2 linked regions of the Homo sapiens genome follow. The protein of the gene in region 1 purifies or fractionates together with the protein of each later gene. This does not show direct contact. Each region holds a gene or a part of one and is shown on either strand. Other genes may lie near its edges.

What was found.
Region 2: the proteins of ASS1 (region 1) and PC purify together in Homo sapiens (affinity purification with mass spectrometry; 2 studies listed by BioGRID and IntAct, with this or other methods). This does not show direct contact.

Annotation. Positions count from the first base shown.
Region 1 is NC_000009.12:130,445,833-130,456,575, forward strand, and holds part of ASS1 (argininosuccinate synthase), read left to right. Parts: intron 1-4,023; exon of another isoform or gene 4,024-4,123; intron 4,124-4,439; exon of another isoform or gene 4,440-4,501; intron 4,502-6,391; 5' UTR 6,392-6,396; coding exon 6,397-6,501; intron 6,502-8,472; coding exon 8,473-8,541; intron 8,542-10,743. UniProt on the Homo sapiens protein: One of the enzymes of the urea cycle, the metabolic pathway transforming neurotoxic amonia produced by protein catabolism into inocuous urea in the liver of ureotelic animals.
Region 2 is NC_000011.10:66,950,855-66,967,139, reverse strand, and holds the start of PC (pyruvate carboxylase, mitochondrial precursor), read left to right. Parts: upstream 1-8,756; 5' UTR 8,757-8,818; intron 8,819-9,143; exon of another isoform or gene 9,144-9,400; intron 9,401-12,703; 5' UTR 12,704-12,891; intron 12,892-14,671; 5' UTR 14,672-14,710; intron 14,711-16,285. UniProt on the Homo sapiens protein: Pyruvate carboxylase catalyzes a 2-step reaction, involving the ATP-dependent carboxylation of the covalently attached biotin in the first step and the transfer of the carboxyl group to pyruvate in the second.

The sequences.
Region 1 (10,743 bases):
AGCCGAGTCAGGCTGCAGGTCTCAGGGCAGGAACAGACCTGTTCTCTCCCCAGGGGTAGATCAAGACCTAGGGGACTTGGGCTTTGATCCTCCCGCTCCCAGCAAGCACAAACCCAGTGATGGGGAGAGCTGGTGAGGCCTTGGCTCAGCCTCCAGATTCCCAAGCTTCCTTTTCATTTTCTTTTCTTTCTAAAAATTTATCAGAGATGTGGACTCGTCATGTTGCCCAGGCTGGCCTCGAGCTCCTGGGCTCAAGCGACCCTCCTCCCTCGGGCCTCCTAAACTGCTAGGATTACAGGCTCGAGCCACCCAAAGTGCCTGGCCCCCAAGCTTCAGTCTGTTAGAGCTGGCTGGGGCTGAGGGCTCAGGAAACATTTGCAGATACTGTGCGGCTGCTAAGGGCTCTGTAGACTGTTGGGTGCTGGGCCTGGGTCCAATTGCACAATAACTGTGCCTGGGGTTAGGTTCTGATGAGAGGGAGGGAGAAGCAGCCACACGGACTGGGAAGCTTGGCTAGGAGCAGGAACTGGAGGAGTCTCCATTCCAAACTCCCTCTCCCTCCCAGACCCCTTAGGCCCAAGGCCTAGGGCGGGGAAGTTTGGGGGTGGGGGCGGGACCCTGTCCTGGCGGGGCCATCTGTGCACCATGCTGAGAAGTAATTCTGGTTCTGCTCTGTGGGGGTGGATCAAGTGAATGAATAGTGACTCCTGCCTGCTGAGCGCCTGGCCGGTGCGGGGGCAGACACGTCGTGAGAGGGAAGGGGAGGCCCCACTCTCAGCACAGTCTCCATTCCTGAGTGCTTGGGAAGCAGGCCCAGGGCCGCAGGAGCCTTGGGGTGGAGCCAGGCCCAAAACAGCCTGCTGCACAAGCGCTTCCCCCTCCCAACCCGGGCCCATCTCATCTTTGGCCTGCTGGGAGGCCAGCCAGGTCAACCAGATGCCTCATCTGAGCACTGACTACACAGTCCCTGAAGTCAGTGGCTTGCCTGTGGGCACCAGGCACCCATGTGGAAAGAGGTAACTTCGCTGGAATTCAGAGTCTAAGGCTCTGATTTCTGATGTAGCTTTGGGCAAAGTTGATCTTCCAGGGCGTGGCTCCCTCCCCAGACTTGGGGTCGACCAGGCACCCATAGGCACTTTGATATGAGTGGAACGAATGAATGAATGTGCCCTTCGTCCATCACCAAAGACAAACCGAGCTCAGCTGAGTTAGAATGTCAGCGAGGGGTTGCAGGGGAATCTTCCACGGGGCAGTAGGCCTGAGCTATAGCACACAGGCTCTCCAGAGAAATAGTGGGCAGGTTGGCCATGACTCACTGGGGGGCTGGTTTTCTGGAAGGTGTGTAGAGTGAAGGGGAGATCTGAGGTCTCCTAGGAGCCAGGGAGTGGAAGGCCTAGTGCAGGGAAGAGCAAGTGGCCTGCAGTCAGGCTGGGTTTGAAGCCGCTAGCTTGTGACCTCGGCTGGCCGCTTAGCCTCTGCCTCCTCCTTTGTAAATAGGTGGTAATGGCAGTCTCCACCTTGAGAGGATGCACCTGTGACTGTGAACATAGTAGCCGCTCTTGTTGTCATTCCAGCTCTGACGTTTTCAAGTAGCACGAGTTTTCCTTAGTGTCAAGTGAGCGCCCAGGCTGGCCTGTTTGCTGGAAGCTGGACAGATGGCTGTGGCTGGGGCCACAGAGAATGCCATCCCAATGAAAGCCAGGTGGCTCTGGTACCTTGACGCGAGGCCACCTTCCCTCCTCCCAGGTGTCTCTTCCGGGGAAGGAGGGCTGGAGGGCAGTGGGCATTTGCCAGGGAGCTGGAGAAACCTGCCGTGGCCCTTTCTGGGGGATGTGGTGGGGGTGGAGCTGGGACTAGGGGAGGCTGAATTCAGCCAGGATCTGCCTGCCAGGCGCAGCTCCCAGGAAGAAAGCCCAATGTCTGGGAGGGTCAGAACCCAGAGGGCTGTCAGGTTGTACAGATGAGGAAATTGAGGCTTAGCAAGCCAGGAACTTGGCTGAGGTCAGCCATAGCAGCGGTGCACAGAGCTTAGTGGGCACATACATGCTTGGTGCCCAGCTCTGGGCTCCTTCCCCCAGCATCTCACCCAATCCTTACAGTCGCCCTGTGGGGAGCAGGCTGTTTGCACCCCTATTTTGCAGCTGAGCAGTTATGCTAGAGAGCTGAAGCCACTCAAACCCATGTCTGGTGGACTTGACCTCTGTCCTGTGCCTGGAGTGAGCGCTCACTGGATTGCAGCTGTGGTTCCTTCTCTCCCTGTCACTTCCTCCCCCGACATCAAACCCTCAGTTTCATTTAGTTTTTGCCTCGGGCTGCAAATGCAGCTTAGGGACCTGCGGAGGCTGAGGGAGGGGGGTGCCCCACCCGCTGCTGGGAGGGCAGGAGCAACGCTGCTGTCTGATTGCATCATTTTCCCAAGCCCATCTGCCCAGCTCATTTCTCTGCATGCATACACTGGCCCCAACACCCACACACGTGTGCATGCACACAGGCACACATGTGCAAGCCCAAACACATCACACACATGCATGCACACACATTGTGTACTCTCAGGTACGCACCCCTGGGTGCACACAGGTGTGTGCGCGCGCACACACACACACACACACACACTGTCTCAGGTACACACGCCAGGTCCATGCATTGCTTCACACTGCCCAGCCCCAGAGGCTGAAGGCCTCAGAGCCCACACCTGCCCAGCTACAACCTGGCAGGCAGGAGGGGCTCACTGGTTTCTTTTGGTTTATTTAAGACAGAGTTTCACTCTGTCACCCAGGCTGGAGTGTGGTGGCACGATCTTGGCTCACTGCAACCTTTACCTCCCAGGTTCAAGCGATTCTCGTGCCTCAGCCTCCCAAGTAGCTGGGACTACAGGTGTGTGCCGCCACACTCAGCTAATTTTTGTATTTTTAGTAGAGACGGGGTTTTGCCACGTTGGCCAGGCTGGTCTGGAACTCCTGACCTCAAGTGATCCACCCACCTCGGCCGTCCAAAGTGCTGGGATTACAGGCATGAACCACTGTGCTCGGCCATGAGAGCATGTGTAGGACTCCACAGCTTCAGGGCACCCCAGCCCTCTTTTTGCGGTGAGGAGCTGACCTCCAGAGAGTGGAACTAGTAGCATTGTTCTAAGTGCCTGCCACAGGCATCTGGGAGATGGTCCCTGTTTCCATGGAGCTCATAGTGGGGGAGAGGGCAGTTAGAATACAGCATGATGGCCGGATGTAGTGGCCCATGCCTGGAATCCCAGCACTTTGAGAGGCTGAGGCAGGCAGATCGCTTAAGTCCAGGAGTTCGAGTCCAGCCTGGGCAATGTAGTGAAACCCCATCTCTACAAAAAATACAAAAATTAGGCAGGTGTGGTGGCATGTGCCTGTAGTCCCAGCTACTTGGGGGTGGTGGCACTGAGCTGGGATGGGAGGATCCCTTGAGCCCAAGAGGTGGAGGCTGTGGTGAGCTGAGATTGCATCACTGCACTCCAGCCTAGGTGACAGAATGAGACCCTGTCTGAAAAAAAAAAAAAAAAAAAAAGGATACAGCTCTGATGGGCAGGAGGCATGGCGGGTCACTGAGGCGATGCAGGTGATCCAGCTGTTTCTGTGGAGCTGCCCCTCCGTGTTTCTGTGGAGCTGCCTCTCTTGGCTCCAGGTGCCTCTGGGAGGAGGCAGGAGCAGGGGTGACTCTCAGAGCTGGGTGAATCTTGGGCCAGCATCATCAGATCACACTTGCCCAGGACTTCCCTTCCTTGAGTCTCCAGTGGTGGTCTTGTACCTATGAGCAGGGGGTTAAGGAGCCGAGCTGATCTGAGTTGGAGTCCTGGCTCTGCTGCCTACCAGTCAAACGAGATGCAGGGCAAGTTCCTCAGCCCAAGCCTCAGTTTTCCTGACTCTAAAATGAAGAGAACCCCAGATGGAAGGGCTTAGCCTAAGACGGACATGTCTATTCCCTTGATTGTGGTGTTGATGTCACGGGCGCATCCGCACGCCGAAACTTGCTAAATTGGACACAAAAAAATATGCGATTATTTTTGTAGTTGATGAATGTGCTGATTGGGTATTCTCGTGTGTGTGTGAGGTGCCACCCTCAAACTTTGTTATGATGTTGGCACATTACCCATCTGATATTTAAAAAATGCAATTTATGATATGTCAAGTAGACCTCAATAGAGCTGTTTTAAAACATACAACAGAATTTCCCGCAACCCAACCACACCACCCGCGCCATCACACGCAAACAGGGGTAGGCTTCCACATATTTCCTGAATGCCTTCTGGAGCAGGGGGCAGGAGGCAGGAGGCAGGACAGGTGGCTCTGGGGCTCCTGGACCTCCTCTGCTCAGTGAGGCTGCTCACAGGAGATTGGGCGGCTGGAAAGTAAGGTTTAGGGCCTCTGGGATGGCCCAGGCTACCTGCAGGCAGCTGAGTAGCTCTGCTTTTGCAGAGTGGTTCACTGCACTGTGAAAACAGATTCCAGACGCCGGGAACTCACGCCTCCAATCCCAGGTACTGCCCACCTTAAGTCCTCCCTGCCTGCCTTCCTCCCTCCTTCCCTCCATCCTGCATGGCCAATTGCCTGGCTGCAGTTGCCATGGATACCACCTGCTGGCTCCAGGGTTAGGGCTGGCTGAGTCACCAGCAACTCAGGGGCAGGGGGTTGAATGCCCAGTAGGGACGTTGTGGGCACCGACCAGAACCATCTTCTCTGCCCCAGCTGCATGGTCCATGAGGTGTTTCCCCTTCTAAGTCCAAAGGGCAGCACAGGCCTGTGAGCCCCGGCTGACTGGCAGGTGGGACCGTGCAGCATGCACGGGACTGAATTCTCATGTGACGGAGCTCCAAAGTCCACCTGGCTACACGGCCAGGCTCTGCAGCAGAGGACGGGAGGCCTGGGAAAGGCACTTCCTCTCCCCGAGCTTCCAGGCACACAGAGAGTGCTCAGGATAGCGATGCCTGCATCACTGCAATGGTGATGGCCGGGTGACCCTTCTGGGCTCCACTTCCCCAGTAGTGTCTAATAAAGACCCTGGGTGACTCTGACCTTGTGACGTTGGTCAGACTCCAGTGGAAACGTTCCCAGGCAGAACAAACATGCCCTGTACATTTGGGAAATGCGGGATGCTGGGGCCAGGTGTCCACGGAGGCTGGAACCAGGAGGCCTGGGCCCACATCTGCCCCTGCTGCTTGTTGATCCGATGACCCTGGGCAGGTGACCTCGTCTCCCTAACCCTGGTTTCCTGTTCAGCAAATTGGACACAGTGAAGACGCCCAAGCCCAGGGCCACAGGAGGCATGTGGGGGAGGGGGGTGCAGGGCGAGCCCAAGGGCAGCCCAGGATTCAGGGAGAGCCCTCGGGGAAGAAGCATGGCTGCAAAGATCAGGAGACAGGAGGCCTTGGCGCCTTCGGGAGGCTTCATTGTGACGGAGGGTGGGGCAGGATGGGAGACCGCAGGCACTTCCCGGCTGCAGAGGGCCTGGCTGCAGAGAGCCCTCGTGCCCATCTGTCCCCCCGGGAAGGGCCGCTGGTTGCAGAGGTCTTAGGCCTCTGCCTGTCTATCGCCTTCCCTCCCTGGGCCTCAGTTTCTCTACCTCCACACTGGGGGAAGTTGGTCTCTGAGCCCCTCCAAACTGGGCATTGGCAGAGTTGAATTCAGAGGCGCTCACATTTGGAGACACGATGTCTAAAATTCCAGCCAGTGAAGGTTCCATGGGGTTGCAGGTAGGAGAGGGACTGGGGCTGGGCCCCTGCCCCACAGCATCCTTCTCCACCTGCAGGTGGGCGGCGGCACTGCGTGCTGGGGAAGCACAGATTCTTGTGCCCTCTGTGACCTTGAGCCTGCCACTGACCTCTCTGAGCCCTGCTGGCTGCCTCCCCAATAGGAATGACAACTCCTACTTCATGAGGTTGTAGTGGGGGCTCAGGGGCACAGGGAGATCCCGCTGAGGCTCCCAGGGCCCTGCCTGGTGCTTGGCAAGGAGCAGTTCTGATGGGGGATGTGTCAGCTGCCAGAGGCTCAGAGCCAAGGCCCCTCCCACATCTCCTGCCTGCGTGCATTCCTCACATCCTGGCCTTGGGCCAAACTGCTCAGCCTCAGCCGCCTTCCCTCGATGCTGGAGGATCAGGTCCAAGAGATGCCTCTCCCCGACCAGCCTAGGACTGCAGTCAGCATTCCCAGGCCCCAGTGTGGTCTGTGGGGCTGTGTGCAGAGTGTGCGAGGTCAGGGTTCCCGGGGGTGGCAGGCACTGAAGGTGAACATCCTGTTCCCGACCTTCAGTGGCAGCTTGCCCAGGAGACAAGGCTGTCCAAGGCCAAGGTCGGGGCTGGGCTGTCTGCAGGGGCTGGCGGGGGGCACTGGCTGTCTCAGGGTCACTCAGGTTGTTCCTCGACTCCCGCCAGACGCTATGTCCAGCAAAGGCTCCGTGGTTCTGGCCTACAGTGGCGGCCTGGACACCTCGTGCATCCTCGTGTGGCTGAAGGAACAAGGCTATGACGTCATTGCCTATCTGGTGAGGGAGCGACCTGGGTGTCTGTCTTCCTGCGTGTCCTGCAACCTGTCCTGTCTGCCCCCTGCCAGCCTCTGTCTGGGTTGTCAGCCTGTCTGCTCACCGTCACTCATTCAAGCCTGGCCTCTTCTCTCGAAGCCTGTCTTGAACTGGAACTAGGAAAATAGCTTCTCGTTGTACTGCCTCACTTTCTCCATCTGCAAATTGGCCATCCTTGAGATGCCTTCCAGAGCCAGGTGATGGAGGCGCGGGGAGGGCACAGAAGTGAACTTGGCAGTGCTGCTGGCTTAGCCTGCTTGCAGAGAGGCATGGGCTGGGACCTGCTGCCAGCCCTGGGAAGGCACACAGTCTTCCCATCTCCAGAGTATGCTGTCAGCCTGCAGTAATTCAGCAAAGATTGTGGAATCCTGAGCTGGAAGGACCCTGGGGGATCACCTGGTTCTGGGATGGGAAATAGGTCACAGGTGATGGGTTATGTGTGAAGCCACTTCCTCATCCAGGGCCCATAGGAGTCATCCCTCTCAAACTAGCTCCTCTTCGACTGAACCTGGCCACAGCTCTGAGTCCTTCTCTGTGTGGCTGTGCTGTTCAGGACTCTTAGGTGCAAATTTTAGAAACTGAACTCAAACCAACTTACGCAAAAAGGAAAGGGAAAAGACAATTCTTGGCTCACACAACTGAGAACTCCAGGGGTAGGATGGCTTCAGGCAGGGCTGGATCCAGGTGCTTCTAAGATCTATCTCCAACTCTACTTGGCTTCATTCTTGGCCTCTCCACAGGGCAGGCAAGGCTCATGGTCACCCTCATAGCCCACCTTTCCCAAAAAGGAGGGCTTACCCCCAGTAGGGCCCATGGGGACCCACCACGCATTAGTCCCTATGGCTGCATCATGGGGTGCGAGGCTTGGGCCATGAGCCTACTCCTTCAGTGGGCGGGATTTCTTCCTCTCCATCCCTGTGGAATGGGGTCCACCCAGGAAAGAAGGTTCTGTTTCCAGAGGAAGTGAGCCTGGGTCTCTGGACAGACAAAACTTAGCTCTTGCCAAAAGTGGCTTGTTTGCCGGCATATTGGCATGTCTAACTGCGCCCAATGCCCTTGTCATTCAGGTTGGGGAAAGTGAGGCCCAGGGGAAGAAATACTTTGCTCACAGTCACCTGGTGGGTGAGAGCACAGCTTTGAGGGGCTGCAAAGAGCCCAGGGTGTATCCATCTCACTGTAGGTAGCACAGCGGGGCAATCAGAGCTGGAGCTGGGCGTATAGACCCCTGGGCTACCACCTGGGGGATTTAAAAGCTGAATGTGATTCAGATAAGCACCTGCAGCTGGGCTTTGGCAAGATTCCAGGGTCTGGTGAGCCGAATGAAGGGAGTGAGGGCTGAGGCCAGGATCTGGGCAGCAGGCCAGAGTCCAGGCAGCAGGAAACATGGCAGTGTCTAGACAGGGGCTGTCAGACCCCGAGGTCAGGGCACTGGCCACAGGGACGGAGCTGGAAGTTCCTGAGCACGGGCTTCTCTGCCTCCCGCCTCTCAGCTGCCTCAGGATGGCCAAGGCATGGCCTTTGACTAGGGAGGAGAGCTGGAGGCTAGGAAGGCCCTGACAAGCTAATCTTTGCACTGGCTGAGAAAGAGTTTTCTGGAAAAGACAGATGAGTTTCAGGAGAACCCTAGACCTTCCAGCAATGACAGCAGATGGTTGTCTCCCAGCAGCCTGTGTGGCCAGGGCCAGGCTCAGCCAATGCTCCAACCCATGGAAGCCACCAGCCATCACCACGCTACAATCCAGCTCCCAATCTCACCTCCTGGAAGAATCTCACCTCTCCAGGCCTTGGGCTTTGTCCTTTTTCCTTCTTACTGTGACTTGGCCATGGAATGGAAGCTGTCTCTGTAGCAGGGGGTGGGAGGCTGCTGCATGCGGATGGTGTGAACTCAGGGCTCCCCCCAGGGGCTGACGGAGCCTCTCCGCTTCTGCTTCTCAGGCCAACATTGGCCAGAAGGAAGACTTCGAGGAAGCCAGGAAGAAGGCACTGAAGCTTGGGGCCAAAAAGGTACCAGGCGGGAGGCAGGGATTTGGGCTGGGAGTGGGGCGGTGATGTGGAGGGCAGTGGTGGATGCTCCTGCCCCAGGGATCCCATCCCTTCCAGTGTGTCTTCTTGCTTCTAAGAGTATGAGATCATCCTGCTCTCAGGTGTGTGAACCCTCTTGTTTTTCTGCCTCCCCCACGCCCTCTTCCACCCACCCACCTTCCCATCCAGGTGGAGTGTCTCTTCCCCACCCACATACCTTCCCTTCTCTTTTATCTCTCTGTCCATCTATGCACCCACTCACCCTCTTTTATCTCTGTTTATCTACTCGTCCACATATCCATCCATCATTCATCCCTCCATTAGCTATCCATCGATCCATCCATCCATCCATTCAGCCATCCATCCATCCATCACCCACCCATCCATTCACCCATCATCCATCCATCCATCCATCCATCACCCACCCATCCATTCACCCATCATCCATCCATCCATCCATTCATCCATTCATCCATCATCCATCCACCCATCCATCCATCACCCATCCACTCATCCACCCATCCATTATCCATCCATCCATTCATCCATCCATCCATCATCCATCTATCCATCTATCCATCCATCCTCCGTCCATTCATCCATCATCCATCCATCCATTCACCCATCATCCATCCATCCATCATCCATCCATTCATCCATCATCCATCCATCCATCCATTCACCCATCATCCATTCATCCAGCCATCATCCGTCTATCCATCCATCATCCATTTATTCATCCATCATCCATCCATCCATCCATCATTCTTCATCCTTCCATGCATCATCCATTCATCCATCCATCATCTACCCATGCATCCATCCATCATCCATCCGTCTATTCATCCATCCATTCATCCATCCATCATCTATCCATCCATCCCATTATCCATTCACCCATCCATCCCTTCATTATCCATCCATCCATCCACATATCCATCTGTCATTAATCCCTCCACTGTCTATCCATCCATTCATCCAGACAGCCAGCCATTCATCTATCCATCCCCCATCCATCCATCCATCCTTCATCCATTCACCGTTTTTCTATCCATCCATTCATCCATCCATCCATCTGTCATCCATCATCCATCCTTCTGTCCATCATCCCCCTACCTGTCCTTCCCTCTTTTATCTCTCTGTCTACCCATTCTTCCATTCATTCAACAGAATCAGAGAACTCCAATTGAGTCTGGTGCCTTGATTGTGAATCTAGGCATGTGGCAGGCAGACCCCTGTCCCATACAGGGCATTTATGATGAACAGTGTCATCAGGACCCCTGCTCACATGTGCTCACTCCCCATGGAGAAGCCCTTGCCACTTGTGCCCCTTCATTTGGGAGAGTGAGCAGGGGACATAGCAGGGATGATGTGCAAGGCCACCAGCCCACCTGCAGGGTCAGAGCTGATCCCCTCTGTGGGGTGCTTCTGCAGGGTTGCCAGGGTAATTAGCATGTTAAAATGAACACGGGAGGGAGTGGATGCCCCAGTCCCAAGTCACCTACTGGCCACAGGCCTGGAACTAGAATGTCCCTCCTTGGTTCTGTGCCTCCCGAGTGCTGGAGAGCAGAGGGGTTGTCTGAGCAGTAGTCCAGGAAGGGGAGAAAGAGCCCTGAGTGTTGAAGATTCGAGTGCGCTTTCAGCAGCGCAGGAGCAGGCTTTGTGCACGGCTTCAGCTTTTGTCCTTTATTCTAGATGAGCAGTTCTCAAAACTTGTGGTCTTGGGAATCCTCTACACTCTAATTTACGTGGCGTTTTTAATGTTTATTTTCTTGCATATAACATTAGGATGGGCCAGGCACAGTGGCTCACGCCTGTAATCCCAGCACTTTGGCAGGCTGAGGCAGGCAGATCACCTGAGGTCAGGAGTTCAAGACCAGCCTGGCCAACATGGTGAAACCCTGTCTCTACTAAAAATACAAAAATTAGCTGGGCGCGATGGTGGGTGCCTGTAATCCCAGATGCTCGGGAGGCTGAGGCAGGAGAGTCGCTTGAACCCAGGAGGCGGAGGTTGCAGTAAGCTGAAATCACACCATTGCACTCCATCCTGGGCAACAACAGCAAAACTCTGTAAAAAAAACCAACCAACCAACCAAACAAACACAAAAACACATTTATCCTAATGTTTTTTATATATCCTTAGTCCCAATTGCTTTCTTTTCTATGCCTTTTTATTTCATTTTT
Region 2 (16,285 bases), on another chromosome or scaffold:
AATTGTTTGTGGGCCAAGTGCAGTGGCTCACACCTGTAATCCCAGCACTTTGGGAGGCCGAGGCAGGGGAGGATCACTTGAGGGCAGGAGTTTGAGACCAGCCTAGGCAACAAAGGGAGTCCCCATTTCTATAGAAATTTTAAAAATTGGCCAGGCATAGTGGCTCACGCCTGTAATCCCAGCACTTTGGGAGGTGGGCGGTGTGGGGGGCAAATCATGAGGTCAAGAGTTTGAGACCAGCCTGGCCAAGATGGTGAAACCCCGTTTCTACTAAAAATAAAAAATTAGCTGGGCATGGTGGCGGGTGCCTGTAATTCCAGCCACTTGGGAGGCTGAGGCAGAGAAGCATTTGAACCCAGGAGGCAGAGGTTGCAGTGAGCCGAGATCATGCCACTGCACTCTAGCCTGGGTGACAGAGCAAGACTCTGTTTCAAAAAAAAAAAAAAAATAGTTCTTGGGTTTATCTTCTGTCCCTTATTCCCTCCTCACACCTCTACAAGAGTTGAGTTTAGCACATAGTAAATGTTTAATAGTCAGCGAATAGGAGTGCCCCAGAGACCAAGCAGAGTCCACAGAGTCCAGTGGACGCCATGTTTATGGGGGAGGGAAAAGTTAAAGAGATGATAACCTGGAACAGGTCAAATTGGGGGCATGGACCGAGAGGAGCAAATTCTGAGGAATTTCTGAGGCTCTGACAGTGTCCCTGGGCCGGGAAGGAAGATGAGGTGGTGGGAGGATATTGAGCCATTTCTGCAGCACTATGAAAAATGAGCTACTTTCCCAGACTCGTTTTGGGGGACAGACCTCAAAGCACCCCATTTCAAAGCAGTGTGGTGCTGGGCTAGAAATAATGCCCAGGGTGTTATGGGAGTCCTAAGAGGGCCCCTTACACCATGAGAGTGGCCTTGGAGAGCTTCATGAAGGAGACAATGGCTGGGTTAAGTCTTGAGAGAGAGAGAGAGAGATATGACAGGAAGAGAGTTTATCAGGTGAATCTATTGAGAAAAGGAATCCCATGCAAGGAAAACAGCCCAAGCACAGGCAGGAAGGCACGATGGGGATAGAGGAATGATGATACCTCATACCATTGGGGTGTAGGGAGGACAGCATACCAGCAAGTTCAGACAGCATGGTGGCAAGGACAGGGCAGTTAGGAACAAGAAGGTTGGAGACATCCAGATGGATGGGAGCTCCCAGACAAAGCTACAGATCCTGGCTGGGCACAGTGGCTCACGTCTGTAATCCCAGCACTTTGGGAGGCTGAGGCGGGTGGATCACCTGAGGTCAGGGGTTCAAGACCAGCCTGGCCAACATGGTGAAGCCCTGTCCCTACTAAAAATACAAAAATTACTTGGGCGTGGTGGCACATGCCTGTAGTCCCAGCTACTTGGGAGGCTGAGGCAGGAGAATCGCTTGAACCCAGGAGGTGGAGATTGCGGGGAGCCAAGATTGCACCACTGCACTCCAGCAGCCTGGCAACAGAGCGAGACTCTGTCTCAAAAAAAAAAAAAAAAAATTAGCCGGATGTGGTGGCAGCTGCCTGTAATTCCAGCTACTCAGGAGGCTGAGGCAGGAGAATCACTTAAACCCAGGAGGCGGAGGTTGCAGTGAGCCGAGATCACACCATTGCACTGCAGCCTGGGTGACAGAGTGAAACCCTGTCTCAAACAAAACAAAACAAAACAAAAACCAACCAACAAACAAAAAAACAAAAAACAAAGCTACAGATCCCTCAAAACACAGCTGTTACTATGAGACTGGAAACAGCCCACCCCTCTGTGTTTAGAATCCAGAAGCCTGGCTTTACCCTGAGGATCTCATAAGGACAACCCAGATGTCTCCAATCCCCACTCCAGAGATGACAAAAGAAAGATTTCTCCCGCCAGCATGGACTGAGCAAGCAAGGCATTGGCCAGGAGTGTTTGTGGTGTGGAAACTGCAAGTGTGTGAGGTGGCCCTGTGCCCTTGCCTGTGGCCACTCAAGTACCATTTTTGGCTTGGAGGGAGCCTAAATTCCAATGTTTCCCTGCACTGTGTTCCCAGGCTCCTTTAACCCCATGGCTTCTCACCCCTAGAAACCGCCCTGTCTTTTCAGCCTCCTCCTACTTTGGCCGTTCAGTCTGGACAATTCCACTGGGCTCGTGGAACCCATCATGGGATCGCCACAAGGTGGTCAGACCTTCCACCGGCCGAGGTGGACCAAGGGCCAGTGTCTCCCCTGTGTTCTCAGACTGCAGAAGTCTCTGTCAATTATGAGATCTGCCCTCTTCTGTCTCTGAGCCTCTGAACATGTCCCTAAGAAGCAAAGGGATGGGTTAGCTACTCCCAACGTGCCCCCCAGAGTTACTGGGGTAACAGTAAAGCCAGTCCTTTTACCTATCCACAGCCCAGCCTCTTAGCTGCAACTTCCTGTTTTTGTTTTGTTTTGTTTTGTCTGAAGACTGGATCTTGCTCTGTTGCCCAGGCTGGAGTGCAGTGCAGTGGCACAATCTCGGTTCATTGAAACCTCCACCTCCCAGGCTCAAGCGATCTTCTCACCTAGCCTCCCCAGTAGTTGGGACTATAGGCACACCCCACCAAGCCTGGCTGACTTTTTTTTTTTCAATTTTTTTTTTTTTTTTTTTTGTGAGACAGAGTCTCACTCTGTTACCCAGGCTGGAGTGCAGTGGTGTGATCCCGGCTCACTGCAACCTCCGCCTCCCGGGTTCAATGATTTTCCTGCCTCAGTCTCCCGAGTAGCTGGGATTATAGGCATGCGCCAGCCACCACGCCCGGCTAATTTTTTGTATTTTTAGTAGAGATGGGGTTTCACCATGTTGGCCAGGCTGGTCTCAAACTCCTAACCTCAAGTGATCCACCCACCTCAGCCTCCCAAAGTGCTGGGATTACAGGCATGAGCCACCGTGCCTGGCCTTTCTTTTTCAATTTTTAATAGAGATGAGGCCTCACATTCAGGAGATTGAGACCATCATGCCTAACACGGTGAAACCCCATCTCTACTAAAAATACAAGAAAATTAGCCGGGCGTGGTGGCAGTCGCCTGTAGTCTCAGCTACTCGAGAAGCTGAGGCAGGAGAATCGCATGAACCTGGGAGGTGGAGGTTGCAGTGAGCCGAGATCGTGCCACTGCACTCCAGCCTGGGTGACAGAGCGAGACTCCATCTCAAAAAAAAAAAAAAAGAAAAGAAATGAGGCCTCACTATATTGCCCACGCTGGTCTCAAACTCCTGGGCTTAAGTGATCCACCCACCTTGGCCCCCGCAAAGTATGGAATTATAGGCATGCACCACCACACCCAGCTCCCACTCCTGTTTCAAAGCCCACTTGCCCAAGTCTCATGCCCCTAAAGCCTGTGGGAGATACCTCACCATGGCTGCATCCCTTTATCATGGTGCCAGGTCCATACCAGGGCTGACGCCCACAAGCTGGGGCAGAGGAAGAGGAAGAGCCTCCTCACCACTTTTAGCCTCCCAAAGTGCTAGGGTTATAGGCATGAGCCACTGCAGCCGGCCCAAGAATTTCCTTTTTTTTTTTTGAGATGGAGTTTCACTCTTGTCATCTAAGCTGGAGTGCAATGGTGCGATCTTGGCTCACTGTAACCTCCGCCTCCCAGGTTCAAGTAATTCTCCTGCCTCAGCCTCCCAAGTAGCTAGGATTACAGGCGTGCGCCACCACGCCCAGCTGATTTTGTATTTTTTTAGTAGAGACGAGGTTTCACCATGTTGGCCAGGCTGGTCTCAAACCCCTAACTTCAAGTGATCCACCTGCCTCAGCCCTACAAAGTGCTGGGATTACAGGTGTGAGCCACCATGCCCGGCCCAGCCCAAGAACATTTTAGAGTGTTAGCTATTAAGAAATAATAAAGCAGGCCTACACTCCTAGCCTTAGGGCAGCCCCTCAGCTGCTCTGTAAGGGCCCCCTGAACATCATTTCCCTCCCAACAGAGTCCTGCGGCCTGTGTTCTCTGCACCAGAGCTTAACCTTGGCCAGCCTTCCATAGCACATCTCAGCCCCTCTGTCTGGCTTCAGCTGCTGCTGCATCCTCCTAGGAGCTCAGCTAAGTTTCCCAAGCTCCCCAGATCTCAGGAATCAATTGAGTGCTTGCTAAAAGAAAAAAAAAAAAAAGCATTGAAAAGATTACTAGGCCCCACCCCAAACTGACTGAATCATTATCCACAGGGGTGGGTGTGGGTCCAGGAATCTGGTTTTGTTTTTATTTTTATATTTATTTATTTATTTATTATTTGAGACCGAGTTTCGCTCTTGTTGCCCAGGCTGGAGTGCAGTGGTGCGATCTCAGCTCACTGCAACCTCTGCCTCCCGGGTTCAAGTGATTCTCCTGCCTCAGCCTCCCGAGTAGCTGGGATTACAGGCATGTGCCACCACACCTGGCTAATTTTTGTATTTTTAATAGAGACGGGGTTTCACCATGTTGGCCAGGCTGGTCTCGAGCTCCTGACCTCAGGTGATCCACCTGCCTCAGCCTCTCAAAGTGCTGGGATTACAGGCGTGAGCCACTGTGCCCGGCCTTGGTTTTGTTTTTAAAGGGCCCTGGAAGAGTCTTACCATCCAGGAAGCCTAGATAGTATTTCTCTAGCCTCCCTGTGGGTCTTCATACTGACTCCATTAGAACCACTTGGAGAGCTTCTAAAACTAGCACTGCAGTGCAGGGGGTCTTGTTTCTGAAACACCAGGGCCTCCATCTAGGTCCTGCTGCTTTCTCCACAGAAAGCTAATCACTGAGACAATTATTGCCAAGGAAGAAGGCTTTAACTGAGTGCTACAGCCTAGGAGATAGAAGATCAGTCTCAAATCCATCTCCCTGAGTGACTAAAATTAAGAGTTAACACAGAGGGAAGAAATGTAACAATGTGTAAAAAAACAAGAACTAGGGGCCAGGCATGATGGCTCACGCCTGTAATCCCAGCACTTTGGGAGGCCGAGGTGGGTGGGTCACGAGGTCAGGAGTTCGAGACCAGCCTGACTAACATGGTCTACTAAAAATACAAAAATTAGCCAGGTGTAGTGGTGGGCACCTGTAATTCCAGCTACTCGGGAGGCTGAGGCAGGAGAACTGCTTGAACCTGGGAGGTAGAGGTTGCAGTGAGCTGAGATCACACCATTGCATTCCAGCCTGGGCAACACAGCAAGACTCCGTCTCAGAAAAAAAAAAAAAGAAAAAAAAACAGGAACTAGGGAGAAGTAAGGAAGCAAGCAGGGTGAAAGTGGGTTCTGGCATCTTGTTGTCTGGATGCCTTGATCTGGTGAGTTTCAGTTCTCTGATACTTTTTTTTGAGAGGCCTGAGTGTCCTTTCCTGAGGAAGGAACTCAGATAAAACAAATGTAAGTTTCAAGCTTTAAGACCAAAAGGGTCCATTTCTATGTTTATTAAAAAAAAAAGTCTATGGGACTATTGGGTCAGTTTCAGTCTCAGTCCCTAGAGATGGATTGAAGAGGCAAAGGTGACTCAGGTATTCTGCTGATGATTCTAAGACCTCTGAGTTGGTGGTTAATATGCATAAGAGCAATGGGATGGGGCTCAGGAATCTGTGTTTCCCACCTTGTCCCCAGGAGATTCTGTTGCTAGTGGCACAGAAGCCTACGCTGAGAAGTACTTTTTCTTTTTCTTTCTTTCTTTTCTTTTTTTTTTTGAGACAGAGTTTTTCACTCTTGTTGCCCAGGCTGGAATGCAATGTGCAATCTTGGCTCACTGCAATCTCCGGCTCCTGGGTTCAAGCAATTCTCCTGCCACAGCCTCCCTAGTAGCTGGGATTACAGGCATGCACCACCACGCCTGGCTAATTTTGTATTTTTAGTAGAGACAGGGTTTCGCCATGTTGGCCAAGCTGGTCTCGAACACCTAGCCTCAAGTGATCCACCCACCTCGGCCTCCCATAGTGCTGGGATTATAGGTGTGAGCCACTGCACCTGGCCAATTTTTATTTTTTGAGATGGAGGTTTGCTCTGTTGCCCAGGCTGGAGTGCAATGGCGCAATCTCAGCTCACTGCAACCAATTTTCCTGTCTCAGCCTCCCGAGTAGCTGGGATTACAGGTGCCCACCACCATACCCAGTTAATTTTTGTATTTTTAATAGAGAGGGGGTTTCACCATGTTTATCAGGCTGGTCCTGAACTCCTGACTTCAGATGATCCACCCACCTCAGCCTCCCAAAGTGCTGGGATTACAGGCGTGAGCCACCGTGCCCAGCCCATTTTTTAATTTTTTTTTTTTTTTGAGATGGAGTCTCGCTCTGTCACCCAGGCTGGAGTGCAGTGGCATGATCTCGGCTCACTGCAACCTCCGCCTCCCGGGTTCAAGCGATTCTCTTGCCTCAGCCTCCCCAGTAGCTGGGACTACAGGTGACTGCCACCACACCCGGCTAATTTTTGTACTTTTTTAGTAGAGACGAGGTTTCACCATATTGGCCAGGCTGGTCTTGAACTCCTGACCTTGTGATCTGCTGCCTCGGCCTCCCAAAGTGCTGGGATTACAAGTGTGAGCCACGGAGCCCGGCCCCATTTTTTAATTTTTAAAAGACAGAGATGAGGTCTTAGTGTGTTGCCAATGCTGGTCTCAAATTCCTGGGCTCAAGTATTCCTCCCTACTCAGCCTCCCAAAGGTGAACTGGGATCTTAATCCTTGTTCTGTTACTAAAATAGCTGTGTCGGATCCAACCCAAGGTTGGAGTTCTTCAGGACGGGTAGAAGGAATGACAGGGAAGTTGGAGTGAGAAACTACTTATACAAGAAGTCTGAGAGAAGAGTCAGATCTCTCCAGGCTCAATAAACAATTTCTAGTTAGCAAGATGTTCTCATAGTCTTTGATTCTCCTTTTTGGAAGCAGGTTATTTTTTCTCTTTGCCCTTATCACCATCTGATGTACTATGTATTAATCTGGGCCGGGCGCGGTGGCTCACGCCTATAATCCCAGCACTTTGGGAGGCCGAGGCGGGTGGATCATGAGGTCAGGAGATCGAGACCATCCTGGCTAACAAGGTGAAACCCCGTCTCTACTAAAAATACAAAAAATTAGCCGGGCGCGGTGGCGGGCGCCTGTAGTCCCAGCTACTCAGGAGGCTGAGGCAGGAGAATGGCGTGAACCCGGGAAGCGGAGCTTGCAGTGAGCCGAGATTGCGCCACTGCAGTCCGCAGTCCGGCCTGGGCGACAGAGCGAGACTCCGTCTCAAAAAAAAAAAAAAAAAAATATATATATATATATATATATTAATCTGTCTGCTCTCCTTTGAAGGCAGGATTTTGGTTTGTTTGGTCACTCCCTTATCCCCTGGTTGGCACAGACCCCAGTTTACGCAGCGGTGAATGAAAGTAAAAATCTCGGGACCCCCCCCCAGCGCCCCAATTCATGCGAAAGTGAAGATTAAGCCTTGAAGCTGAGTCACTGCAACACCCTCTTCCAAAAGAATAGCTGTTACTAGCATTAGGCATCAGCCATATCCACACGGAAAGGTAAAAACCTCAGGCATTTGGGAAGGGCTGCCCCCACAGATCATTCACAAGTAAATTCTTGCTGGCCTCCCATAAACAAGGACAGGTCAATTGTAGCTTCAGGTCTACAATCTAAGTCTAGCTCCTAAAAATTCCACAATAAGAATGTCATTACAAGCTTATTTTCCCAGGTGCAGAACAAAGTCAAAACTACCTACTCAGAGACATCTGCATAACTGACTCTTCCTTTACTCTCTTTTTCTCTTCAGACATTCATCTCATCTTACGTAGATTTACCGGGCATTAGCTAAAGTCCCATAGGAATGTAACTATTGTCCTAATCGCCTACTTGCCCTTCTTCCTACATGCCTTCCCCTCATTCCCCCTTTAAGGAAATGCATAAATACTAAACCTCCCGAAAACCTCTTCGGAAAAACAACCACGGATGTGTCTGTGGTTCGTGTTTTTCCCGAGCACGCCCTCAAACTGGATTAATAAGCCTCGATGACAGAGACTTATGCCTCAGTCACTTGTTCCACTTGTCAAAGCTTTCCTCTTTGACAAGTGTCTTGGGTCTTGTCAAGTGTCTTGTGTCTCAAACAAGGCTTCCAAACCCCCTAGGTCCTGAGTAGCTTCGCTCTGCAGATGACAAAACCGAGACTCAGAGGTTAAGTTGCTTGCCCAAGGTCACACAGACGTACTGTAGACCCCCATCATCATCTACGCAGCTGTTAAAGGACATAGTCATGTAACCCGTGTGGCACAAGCGCCTTCTCCTTCCTCCTGCCCTTCGCTAACGTTAGCTTTTCCTGCGACCTCTTCTCCGCTAGCCAGCGCGTATCTGCGTCTAGCCGGGATGCCTGAGCCCCAGTGCGAACTGTTGTGCTTGCAGCTTCGGGAGACACGTGCTACTCGGGTGAATGAATCGAACGTCCCCACCCCCGCCGACAGCCAATAACTGCGAGCCACAGCCCGGCCACTTCCGCCTATTGCGGGCGTCGGCTAGGGTCCGGCGGCCCACGTGAGGCTCCGGAGACAAGGGAGTAGGCGGTGGTGCGCCAGGGGCGGGCTCTCCCAGCCTCGCCACTTATCCAGGCGCTCGCCGGGGACGGGAGGGGCGGGGCTGACGTGGGGCGCCAAGGCTTAAACGTGACGGACAGGCGGGCACAGGGAGGAGTCCAGAGCCTAGGGGCGAGGAGTGACGGAGAACACTGCCCAATAACGGGAGGGGTTGGGCTGTCTGGGCCAATAGGAAGTCCGTAAGGCGGGGCCGGGACTGCAGCAAGTTCGGTTGCACGGAGACCGCAGCTGTTCTCTGTCAGTGGAGGCAGCAGCGGTAGAGGCGGCGGCGAGGACTGGCGACGGCGAGGAGGTGAGTGTCCGCCGCGCTCCGCACGGTCCTCTTCCCGCGGCGGGTCGGAGCGGGTGGACGTGCGCCGGCACCGCTGCGAGGGACGCTTATGTAAGGGTCGCGCGCGCAAAGGCGGCGCGGGCTCCGCGAGTGACGGCTGGAGGAGACAGCGACGGGCTGTGCGCGGTGCGCGACGCGACGCAGCGGACGGCGCCCCTCCCCCTCGCGCGGGGGCTCGGCCGGCTGGACCCGCCCCCGGACCCGCCCCCGGCTGCAGCCCCCGAGCGCCCCTCCGCAGCGTCCGCCTGCGGGCTGCCTCATTCTTGCTCTCGGGCCCATTTTGCAGATGGAGAAACTGACTAAAGCGCCTCGCGCGAGGTCCCTGAGGGTTCGAACCCAAGTCTGTCAGGATCGGGAGCCCAAGTTGTCCCCATCGTACTGGATGTGGCTCAGCTCTGCAGGAAGCCGCGGCGTGTAAGGCGAGGGCTTTCCTTGTTCCTTGCTCTCGCACTCCGCCTCCCGTAGGATCCTCTACTTTGTTTCAGACGGGGAAGCTCCAGGCGCCCAGACGCAGTGATTCGCCCAAGGCCGCTCATTCAGGAGGTGGGGCTGGGCTCAGCCCCTTATTTCTCCAGCTTTTAGTAGTTTACAAAGCGCATCAGAGTCGGAAGCCAAGTCCCTAGGTCCCTGGCAACTTTGAGATTCTTTTGTTTTCTTTTCTTTTTTAGACAGGGTCTTGCTGTCACCCACCCAGGCTGGAGTGCAGTGGCGCGATCTCGGCTCACTGCAGTCTCGACCTCCCGGGCTCAAGCGACCCTCCTGCCACAGTCCCCCAGTGCTGGGACTACAGGCGGGCGCCACCACGCCTAGCTAATTTTTGTATTTTTTGGTAGAGACGAGGTTCCGTCATGTTGCCCAGGCTGGTCTCGAACTCCTACGCTCAAGCGAGCGGCCTGCCCTGGCTTCCCAAAGTGCTGAGATTACAGGCGTGCCTCGTCTGAAATTCTAAAAAATCAGATTGTGTCTTTATTTTGTGAGAAGAGGTAGGCCTGGGCTCCTTACCCGTTCTCCAGCTGAGAAAACAGGCTCAGAGAAGTACCAACACTTGCTGATGACAACCAGAACCTCCAGAGTGCCTGCCATCTGCCTCCCTATTGCTCCCGTACCCACTGCCACCATCAGCCCTGGCTGGCCTCCCCCAAGGCACCCTTTCCCTGTATGTGATGCAAACACTTGTGCTGGGGGTGGATGTGCTCAGCATTTCTCTCACTTGCAGCTACAGCTTCCTGCCTGCAGGCTCTCCTTAACTGTTGAACTCTTAATCACATTCTTTTGCACACCTACAGTGTTCCTATCCCTACACTGGGCCGAGAGACAGCGTGGGCGATGAGGTCAATCCTTGTCCTGCAACTGCTGACAAACCCATTGGGGGAGAGAGAAAATAAACAAAACCTAAGCAGCAAGGCAGCCTGCTGCAGATGTTTGTAGAGAGCCTAGTGGGTGAGGTATTGGCCCTAGGAGGACATGGAAGAGGAAGTTCAGTAGAGGCCAGTAAATCACAGCAAACCACACACTAAAGCGAGAGAGAGGAGAAATGGCCTGGAAGGGGATGGGCTTGGGAAGGCTTCGTGGAGGAGGTGAGTTGTGGACCTCTTTTTGATGCCGCTGCAGTGGAGAAACAGTGATTGGATTTCAGCAGCTAGAAAGTTTTATTCTGGAGAGGTTTTGTTAAAGAGGTTTTTTTGTTTTTGTTTTTTGAGATGGAGTTTCGCTCTTGTCGCCCAGGCTGGAGTGCAGCGGTGTGATCTCAGCTCACCACAACCTCCGCCTCCCGAGTTCAAGCGATTCTCCTGCCTCAGCATCCTGAGTAGCTGGGATTACAGGCGCATGCCACCACACCTGGCTATTTTTTGTATTTTTAGTAGAGATGGGGTTTCACCATGTTGGCCAGGCTGGTCTTGAACTCCTGACCTCAGGTGATCCGCCCACCTCGACCTCCCAAAGTGCTGGGATTATAGGCATGAGCCATCATGCCTGGCCAGTTACAGAGGTTTCAAGCAATTAGAACTGGAAGAGGAAGGCTGAGGAAGGTGGAAGGAGAATGTGGGGGAAACAGCTTCACTGTTGGGTGTAAGAAACTTGATTGGTCACTGGGAAGAGGCCTCTACAGGAGATGTAACCAGGTGAGGGCACTAGGATTTGCTAAGGTGCAGGTAAGTCAGTGACTGGAAACCAAACTGAGGAAGCAAGATTAGATGCAAAGGTAGACGGGGCTGGGCGCGGTGCTCATGCCTGTAATCCCAGCACTTTGGGAGGCCGAGGCGGGTGGATCACCTGAGGTCAGGAGTTCGAGACCAGCCTGGCCAACATGGTGAAACCCCTTCTCTGCTAAAAATACAAAAACTAGCCAGGCCTGGTGGCGGGCACCTGTAATCCCAGCTACTCAGGAGGCTGAGGCAGGAGAATTGCTTGAACCTGGGAGTTGAAGGTTGCAGTAAGCTGAGATCACGCCCCTGCACTCCAGCCTGGGCGACAGCATGAAACTCCCTGTCAAAAAAAAAGAAAAAAAAAAGCCCAAAAGGCAGACAGGGCTCTGAGGGCCCAGCTGCAGGCCTGAGCTGCAGATTGTGTCCCATGGTGTTCTGGTAAGCTCCCTGAAAGCAGCCGTCATTTGTTTACTAATGGCTCCTTCACCCTGCTGTGCCCTGCTCTTAGGGAAGGGGCTTTGTTCACTACAGTTGCTCAGTATCTGCTTTTTGAATTAATTAGGCTGTCATCCAAAGTTTCCTCAGTTTACCCCAATGTACCCTCATGTGTCATAACGCCTTCTGTCTTTCTACTGAAGCCCGCTGCAGCCTGGCTGACTCGGTTCCCTGTGCCAGTCCTCACCTCCAAGATCTCCCCTAGAAGGTTGTCCCTGGTAGCCCACAGTAGGTCCCCCAGGCCCTTTTCCCTTTTTTGTCCTGCTCCTTGCTTTCACCCGGTCTCACTTCCAGTGCCCCAGGCACTGTGATAGGTACCTGTCCTCCCACCACCACTCATGGGGGCTCTGGGACCAGTGGCAGGGCAGGACCTCAGATTCACTACTCTTATCCCAAGCCACAGTTCCCTGTGTCCCTCTTCCCTCTGTCCTCTCAGTACCTAATAGTGCCAGGAACAAGTAGGTGCCTAATGAGTGTTTTGGGTGAATTAGTTGAAAAGGGGTCAAACTGGGAACCAGTGAGGAGAGAAGGGTGCAAGATGGGGAATACGGAAAGGAGTTACTTTTGGAGGTGGCAGGGATGGCCAGCACCAAGGTCAGTATGGCAGTAAATCTGGCAATCCACATTTCTCACTGGCACCTTCTGCATGGGCTGGAGGCCTCGTTCAGGTCAACGTTTTCTGTGTTTTTTTTTTTTTGGAGACGGAGTCTTGTTTTGTTGCCCAGGCTGCAGTACAGTGGCACCATCTTGGCTCACTGCAGCCTCTGCCTCCCGGATTCAAGTGATTCTCCTGCCTCAGCCTCCTGAGTAGCTGGGATTACAGGCACCAACCCTTTGCCTGGCTAATTTTTGTATCTTTAGTAGAGATGGGGTTTCACTATGTTGGGCAGGCTGGTCTCGAACTCCTGACTTCAGGTGATCACCTGCCTTGGCCTCCCAAAGTGCTGGGATTACAGGCGTGAGCCACTGCACCCGGCCTCTGGTCAACATTTTCATTGAGGATGAGCATGGCCTTCTCTTTGGCTGCCTCCCAATATCGTCCTGCCCCCATCTGAATGGGCCCCGTTTCTTGTATCCTGAAAGTTCCTGCTTTGGGGCAGGTTTCTCACCCAGAGGCCTCCTTCACAGCAGCAGGGCATTTTGCCTGCTCACTCTGAAACCTCACCTGGGCCTGACTGACCGTGCCTTCCTCTCTTTCTCTTAGCTGCCTTCTAGTCTCACCTGTGGACACTTTGCCAAAGGAGTCGGGCCTGACGGTGGAAGATGGGAAATGGCCAAAAGAATAAACCATTTCCTCTTACTTACCGAATGAAAAGCTTGCTTCATCTTGGCGTTCAAGACTCTCTAATATGATTCCACCTGTTGGGCTCTTTCTTCCATTTGCCTCCGCAGGTACCCTCTTCTGTGTCAGCCCCCATAGTGAGATTAGTCACTGTTACCCCAAACTCACTTCTCACGGTCCCCCCTCTGCTCTTGTTCTTGTTGACTTTGTTTTCTGCAGGGCCTTGCTTCTTATCTTGTCCTGTCAAAATTAAATTATTCTTCGAGACACAGGACTTTATTAAGGCTTGCCAAATCTATTCAGTTGGACTGGGCTCTCTTTTCATAACGATGATGATAAGTAATGATTTATTGTTATTAATAATAAAAGTCAACTACTGTGTGGTGGTGACGGCCTTGCTAAGCCCCTTACATACACATAATGTGATTATCACAACAATCCTATTACGAAGGTCCTATTAGATCCATCTCTTACAAATGACGGACTCTCATAGGTGAAACTCAGAGAGGTGAAATAACGCCCAGAGTAACACAGCCAGGCAGGCTAGGTGGCTCACTGCTGGAGTCCCTCTCACGTGCCATCCCATTTTTGCTTCTTTTAACCAGCCCCTAACAACTTGCTTTTTGGCACTTTGTGGGCAGGGCCTGAGTGTACATACAGTTCCTTGTGCAAGGCATGTGCTCAATAAATATTTTATTGACTTGAGTGCCCCAGACATTGAATTTCAGCCTTGACGTTATCTGTCAAGGCAGCTGGTTTTCTCTGAACAGGGATTTGAGCTTGCTGGCCTGTTTTTCCATTTTGCTGTTCATTGACTAGTGGCTAGGGTAGGTGTGGCTTTTTCGGAAATAAGCAGTCAATAAAACTCCGAAAAGTGATTACACAATACCAACTGTGGGCTCCCATGGGCATAAACACGAGGTGGGCTCTTACTTATGGCAGAGAGGGGTCTCTGCAGGAAAGGATTTGAGGAAATAGCCAGGAAATAGAGTACACATCTCAGGTCACGTAAGACAGCTCCTTATTAGTTTCAAGTTGTGGAGTGAGAGAAGAACCAGACTCCCAGTATTCAGAGGGAGCTCCTGAAGGATTAGAGACAGCTCTGCGGAGATGCAGAGAAAGCGGGCCTGAGGCTGGACGGAGTGGGCAGGAAGAGAAAGCACTTCAGATAAAACGAACTGTTTCTAGAACTTCTTGTTCATGTGTAGTGGGTGGCAGAAAAGGGTTTTACTTAAGCGCTTCCCACCTAGCCTGTCGGTTAACGTCCCAGTGTGTCCTCTGTGCCAGGCATGGTGCCACTGCTGTGCGTGTGCTGCCTCATTGGGTATTCCCTAGTACGCTGTGAGATGGGCATTGTTATTATTCCCATTTTACAGATGAGGAAACAGACTTTGAGTGATTACAGAGCGGCTGTCAGAGTAACAAGAGGTGCAGTCCAGGCAGTGGGACAGCACAGCTGGCGCTTCCAGCTCTGTACCCTCCTGGTGCCCTCAGTGGAAGCAAAGAAACAGTTCTTGGCCGGGTGCGGTGGCTCACACCTGTAATCCCAGCACTTTGGGAGGCCGAGGTGGGTGGATCACCTGAGGTCGGGAGTTCGAGACCAGCCTGACCAACATGGAGAAACCCCCATCTCTACTAAAAATACCAAATTAGCTGGGCGTGGTGGCACATGCCTGTAATCCCAACTACCTCAGGAGGCTGAGGCAGGAGAATCGCTTGAATCCGGGAAGCAGAGGTTGCAGTGAGCCGGGATTGCGCCATTGCACTCCAGCCCGGGTAACAAGACTGAAAAAGTTCTCTGGGTTCTAAAATCGGTGTTCTTGCCACTCCTGTTTTCTCTGGGAAGTTCCTGGAGCAATGAGGGTAATGCTGTTTTTTCTTTTGCTTTAGATAGTGTCTGCCTTCTGGAGAGCTGACCAAACACTAAGGGTAAGTCCTGTGCCTGAATCCAGGCTGGCGGGATGCATGGGGGTCTTCACCAGGAGCAGCTGTGGATGCCAGCAGTTTGGCATGTCAGGTCTTAAGCTCAATCAATAAAAAAAGGCTGCGCTCTGATTTGTGGATAATATCCGTTTAAGCAGTCTTGTCTGTTTCCAGTTGCTCCTGATTTTTACAGGAAAGTGACATCTGGCTCCCTGCTGGCCCCATTTGGCAGCTGGCCAGCCTCAGCAGAAGGCCCTGGTTCTGGAAGGGTATGGTCAGCTTGGGAAGCTGGGCAGGAAGAATCCCTGGGGCTGGGCCGTCTCTGAGAAGACCCCTTGAGTCAGCATGGAGAGCAGGCAGCTGTGGTGTGAGGTGGTTCTGCCAGCTGGTTGTAAAGTCACTTGACACGGGTTTCCAGAGGGTGACGCTCAACCTTTGCCAGTCACGGTAACAACGGGGAAAAAGGGACCTGCCCTTCTTCCCCTGCACATTTTACAGGCATGTGCCACCACACCTGGCTAAGTTTTTTTTTTTCTTTTTTTTTTTTGAGACGGAGTCTTGCTCTGTTGCCAGGCTGGAGTGCAGTGGCGCAAGCTCGGCTTACTGCAACCTCTGCCTCCTGGGTTCAAGCAATTCTCCTGCCTCAGCCTCCCGAGTAGCTGGGACTACAGGTGTGTGCTGCCATGCCCAGCTAATTTTTGTATTTTTAGTAGAGACGGGGTTTTACCATGTTGGCCAGGATGGTCTCAATCTCTTGATCTTGTGATCCACCCACCTCAGCCCCTCAAAGTGCTGGGATTACAGGCATGAACCACTGTGCCCGGCCTAATTTTTGTATTTTTAGTAGAGATGGGATTTTACCATGTTGGTCAGGCTGGTCTCGAACTCCTGACCTCAGGTGATCCGCCCTCTTCGGCCTCCCCAGATGCTGGGATTACAGGTGTGAGCCAGCGCGTCCGGCCTCTACTGCTTTTACAGTTCCCCCAACATGGATTTCCATGGTGGCAGGTGCCTGGGAGATTCAGTGGCCTCCCCTCAGCCTAAATTCCACAGCCCTCCCGCCGGTCCCCTGCTAGTCCAGTCCCCTCTCCCCCTGCTGGTCTGCAGGAGCAGCCGAGCCAGGGAACCAGGTGCTCTCCCAGCATTTGTGACAACAATAATGCTCTTCCCTTCAGGCCCGCTGTGGCCTTGGGGACTTTGTGGCTCAGGGACAACTTTCTCCAGAGCTCATATCCAGTGCTGAGTGGGGATTCCTTGGTATAGGAGTTTTTCTCGGTTTTCCACCCATTATGTGGGGGTTTTCCTCTGACGACCCTTCATGACGCAGGAGCTGGTTTCCTGTGTGAGATTTCCCGCAGTCCTCCCTTGGAGCTAGGTCTTGGGCCAGCAGGTGCCGTCTGCGTGCTACCATTGAGTAAGGGCAATGGGCTCATGGTGGGAATGGCCGTAACGTGGAAGAACTCCACCCTCCACGAGTTTCACCCCCTTGTTCTCTCTCTGCTTGCTCTGTCCTCTTATTCTTGGCTGCTAGAGTTGGATGTTATTTCTCTTACTTGCATCCCTACAATGAGAGGTGGGCAT